Regions from separate parts of the Homo sapiens genome. Here region 2 is linked to region 1. Evidence: fine-mapped expression QTL. Tissue or cell type: whole blood. Region 1 holds a variant in brackets; the other region holds the start of a gene. All regions are shown on one strand. Distances are between the middles of the regions.

Region 1 (2,756 bases):
TGAGCTGGGGTGGTGGGGAGCCTGTCATCACCACCACTGCCCAGGACAAAGACACCCAGAACCACACAATGAGCTTTCAAGCTCACCAAGGCGATGACTGAGCAATGCGCATAGTGACGCGAACATGCAGACATGAGGGCCACACGTGGCATTGGTTTTGTGTATCGACCTGAGTGGGCCCCGGGGTGCCCAGGTGGCTGGTTCTGCATTATTTCTGTGTGAGATGTGTGTTTGCCTCTGGACTGAGTGGAGACTAAGTGGAGACCCATCCTCGCCAGTGTAGGGGGCACCACCCTGTCCACCCAGGGCTCCAGGGCTCGAGTAAAACAGCAAGGCGGGGAAGGCTGGGCTCGCTCCACCTGTCTGGCTGCAGGCCAGTGGCATCCGTCTTCTGCCCCCGGTGCTCCTGGGTCTCAGCTCCTCAGACCTGGGTGGGATCTGCACCCTCCGCTTCTCAAGCCTTTGAGCCACACCCTCCCAGGCCTCCAGGTTGCAGGCAGTGGGTCCTGGGGCTTCTTGGCCTCCGTAGCCCCTGCAGCAAGCCTCCCCCTGGACACACACACACCGGGCTGGCTCTGTCTCTCTGGAGAGCCCTGACTAAGCTGCCCCTAGAAGTGGTCTTCAGAGTTTCCTTCTAGCCCCAATATCCCAGTGCCCCCCTACAATTCTAGGTGGAAAGGTGAATGGAGACCTGGTGAATGGAGACCAATGGACAGAGGTGTGTGCCGAGGACACGCTGGGCAGCAGGGCTGGGCAGGAGTGCACTAACGCTGTCACTATGCAAAGAATCAATGTCACTTGCCACAAAAATGAGAACAGTAAAGATTCCTTCAAACAGAAATGAGTTTGTTTCATGATTTGCTCTTAATACGTAAGAAATCATAAAAGTAGGCCTACTAACAATTACGTAAGTCTTCAGAGGCTCCTGAACTACTTCTGTCCCTTCATGTTTTTATACAAAATAAGCTTGAGGTTAAAGAGAATAACGTCACTGGCCACAGCTGGGGCCACACGAGGACACAGCTTACACCCATGAGGTCCTAGGGGTCCTGAGTCCTTTCCTGGCTATTTATGGAAATACGGGAGAAACCAGGAGGTCTGAACGTGGACCTGGCCATGCCCCCAGGGGCCAAGGAAAGCACCCATCTGTCCACTCTTCCCTCTACCCCACGGTTCCCTACCTGGACTCTGGGGCTGACGTGGCTTCATGCACTCAGCAGCGCCATCATTAAACGTTTAGGAGGGCCTCCTCTAACCACCGCTGGACCTGCAGAGTCAGCACAAGTCTGCAGGACACGCGTGGACAAGGCTGATGGATCACGGCCTCCCACGAGGAAAGTGCCAGGCAAAGAGTCGGAGACACCAGGGATGGAGCAGCACTCACTGGGGGAGGCCAAGGCCGGCACCGGCCACCACCAAGGGCCACGAGGGCCTCCCTCCCCACCCCAAGGGCAGCTCACCCAGGAAGGTGAAAGCCGGCACCGGCCACCAAGGGCCTCTCTTCCCACCCCGAGGGCAGCTGCGATCACATTTCCCATCGCACCAAGAGACCCCTGCATTGAGCACAAACCTTTCCAACCTTCAAATCAATGAAGAATCACAACATGGACATTCCCTCAATCCATATGGCCAGCCCACAAAACC[G/A]ACATGCAATCATCACATGCATTTCCTGTGGGAAAGTCAGTCTCAGTCCGAGGCCTCGCGACAGGGGTAGGGGAGCATCATGGGGAGAGGCCCCAGCCTGGCTCCTCCCCCCACAGCTCCTCTTCCCTCTGCTCCTCACGCCACCCCTCCCCACCCCCTCCTAGCTTCAGAGGCTGCTTCCTCAAATTCTTTCCCCTTGATGAAGTCATTCATTCCCCAAATACAAAGCAATTAAAGGCATGAGAGCTCAAGAGAAAATCCACACCGTGGCTTGTGTTTTAGATTCTCTTAAGTTTGAGAATAACCAAGCAAGAATCTTTGGCATCTGAATGTGGTCTGAAGGCATCTGAGCAGAAGGCCTGGCCCCAGCCCGGAGTGGGTCATGGGTGTCTCCGACATCTTTGTAACTCTGCATCAATTATTTTGAAACATCACTAGCAGAATAGAGCCATGTGAATAGTTACTTTTCTGTTAAAAGTAGAAAAGACTGCCTCAAGGAACATCCTTCCAACAACGACTTTCTGCATCGAGCCTTTGAGGCACAGGCACGGCCCCCGGGCCCACCTCCCTCATCCTTGCATCATAAAGCGGCGAAGACCGTGTGGAATAAAGTAAGTGAAGGAGTCAGTCCCTCACAAAACAGGCTCCAGAAGCCACAGCCACTCTCCCAGCGTGGGAGCCAAGTTAGAGACCCAGAAACCCCAGCGTTCCCAGGGAGGAGGGCAGAATAATGCCATTTCCCCCTAGTTTAGGGAGACAGCACCCCACATCCTCTGGTCTCAACAGAATGGTTAGAATGAATCCACCACACACAGAAAGTGGGCTAAGGGCTTACTAAGACACCCATTTAAATACCCGGCAAAAACACGTTACAGGAACACACAGGTAAGTGAGTTTCTCCTATTATCCATGAAATATTTAGAAACAAATCCAGCAAGCAATCTCTTTGCAATCAAAAGACCAATTCAGAGTTGCAGATTAAACATCAAGATACAACTGAACCCTTACTAGACCAAGAACAAACCAAGTTCCATGGAAGTATAATCATGTCACCACTTCCCAGTCGAAGGAAGCAGCAGTGGTCATCTGACCAGCTGTTCACTCGTGGGTCA
Region 2 (2,500 bases), 460 kb before region 1:
GGTCTAGAATTCCTCTCCATAGAAGATAACCTACTTCTCGCGCAAATCTGCAGTGTTCTTGCAGGGCTGCTGATGGGTGGTCCTGTTCTTTTCGCGGTCCTGTTTGCGCAGAGATGAAACGGGGAACTTAGCGTATCCCTACCGCTCTTTTTGATGACAGGAGTAAAGGGCTGTTCAGACTACCTAAACAATGTTGTTAAGAGAAGCACTCGTACTTCTCAGACTTCGCTGTTCCGGACCCCGCGAGCCAGGGGCAGGCACCGGGTCCACCCGGGGCTGAGCTGCGGCGGCGCCTGACAATGCCCCCTCGCGCCCCGGCCTCGGCGCCCGCTCCCGGCTCCAGCGCGCCTGCACGTACGTAGCCTTCACGTGTGTGTGGATACGGAGTGCATGTGTGGAGACAGAGGAATATGCTCCAACAAATTTCGGATAGAGGCGCCGAAGACAGGACGTGGGGAAGGTAGGAGCCGCGTGCACGGCTCCGGCCCCGGGCGGGAGGCGGCCGCGAGCCGGGCCGGCCGCGCGCAAGTCCGGCGCCAGCCGCTAGAGCCCCCAGTGCGCGGCCCGGCCGCGGGGCGCCTCGACCCGACACAATAAACTCCGAGGGCGGGCGGGCCGAGGGGCCGGTGGGGCCGAGCGGCCGCCCCGCGCGCATCGCCATGTGAGCGGCTGCCGCGGCTTCGCGGGGACCCAACTTTCCCGGGCGGCGGCGCCCAACTTCCCGCCGCCCGCTCCGGCCCCGCAGGCCCGCGGCGCCAGGGGAAGACGCGAGTAAGTGCGGGCGGCGGTGCCCTCCCGGCCCTCACCCCGCACGCGGCGACCCGGCCGCCTAGCCTCCCTCGCTCAGGCGCGACCGCGGCGTTCTCTGAGGTGGAGTATTACAAACATGGCGCCCCTCGAGCCCGGAGCCCTTCGCGCGGAGCCGGCGGCGGGGTCCGGGCGGGGGGGAGCCGGGGAGGAGGGAGGAGGCCGGCAGGGAGGAGGAGGAGGCGGCCTGAGCGTCCCCCCCGCCCCCCGCGCCCGTCGCCGGCTCAGGCCCGAGAGGCGCCGGGCGGCGGGAAGGAGGCGGCACCGGAGGGGAGGGCCGGGCGCGGCGGCGGCGGCGGTGGAGGAGCCGGAGCATAATGGTGGGGAAAGCTCGGCGGCGGGGCGGCGGGGCGGGCGGGGGCGTCCGTGGAGATGGCGCGGCCCGCGCGGTGGAGCCTGCCTGGCCGCGGCCTCTGGGGCGGCGGCGGCACCAGTGGGTGCTGACGGTCGCTCGCCCGCTCGCGAAGAGCTCCGAGCTGCCGGGGAGCTTTGTGGATGGCGGGGCGGGCCGGGCCGGCGGGGCCTGCGAGGGCGGCGGCGGGGCCTGCGGAGGCTGCCGGCCCGCGCCCACTCGCCTTGGGCGGCCGCGGAAGAGGCCCCGGGATGAGGCCCCGGAGGACCGCGCGGGGCCTGCTCGGGCCGGGAAGCCGCGGAGTCGCGTGAGCACCGCCCGCCGGGCCCTGTGCCCCGCTTTCGGTCAGGCCTCCTGGGCCCGTGCGCAGTCCGGGCCGGCGGGGAACGCGGCTCCGGGCGTGTGGCGGGCGGAGAGGAAGCGTTTGTCGGCGCGGCACGTCGTGTGCTAGCCCGGGAGCGGCGGGCAGGGCTGGCCCCGAGGCCCGGGGCGGAGATTCGTCGGTCCCCCGGGGCTGTGAGCGACCCCGGCAGCGAGGCCGCCGCCTCAACAGGTCCTCGCGGACCTCCGGGACAGTCCTGTGGGGTCCGCCGCCCTCCTCCCACCCAGAGCTCCGGGGAGAAGCTGCTGAGGACGCGGCTGGGACGAGGGGGGGCGCCGGGACCCGGACTTTCACTTGCAGTCTCTCCTCGCGCTTTTCTCCCGAGCCGGGAGGAGGAGGAGCTGGCGATGTGTGCGCCGTGCCCGGTGTCTTTTGCAGAGTGACCGCCGTACCTGTTTTATTCGTGTGTACCAGTGCTCGTTGTGCAGTGCGGTGTCCTATGCGGTGGGTACGCAGTACCGGGGATTATATATGGTGTGTACTCTGTGTCATATGCAGTGTGCTCGAAGTACCCGGTGTCGTACCGGCTATCATACACGGTGTGTACATGTATCTTCCTCGCTTAGGCTGTGCACTCAGCCCCCGGTATTGTGTGCAGTAGGTGCCTGGTACCCTGCTGCCATATGAGCTGTGCGTGTGGTACTCCATGTTATATACGAGTGTATGTAGTATCTGGATAGTATTGAATATATTTACCTTACCTGTTGTCACATACAGTGTGTATGTAGTACCTGGTGTCATATATGCGGTGTGTATAGTACCAGGTGTCATATACTGTGTGCACACAGTACTTGGGGTCATATATGGTGTGTACATAGTATCCTTTCACACTGTGTATGCAGCACCCAGTGTCATATACAGCCCTTACGCGGTTCCCGGTATTTTGTGCAGTATGTGCACGGTACCGTGCTGCCATATGCGGTGTGTATGCAGTATTCAATGTCATATACGTTAGGTAT

What was found. PIP is the estimated chance that this variant, and not a neighbour inherited with it, causes the effect.
Region 2: ZMYND11 starts here. The variant in region 1 is fine-mapped to the expression of ZMYND11 in whole blood (TOPMed, PIP 0.98).

What each region holds. Positions count from the first base shown.
Region 1 is chr10:596,795-599,550 of GRCh38, forward strand. The region is part of intron 1 of DIP2C (disco interacting protein 2 homolog C); the gene reads right to left. Among named protein-coding and RNA genes, the nearest start is that of DIP2C-AS2, 30 kb to the right of the region's middle. The variant G/A (reference allele first, on the strand shown) is at 1,645.
Region 2 is chr10:134,433-136,932 of GRCh38, forward strand. It overlaps ZMYND11 (zinc finger MYND-type containing 11), which reads left to right and starts at 1,023. Exons shown (of 15, transcript NM_001370100.5): 1 at 1,023-1,127. RefSeq lists silencers at 265-1,824, 272-450.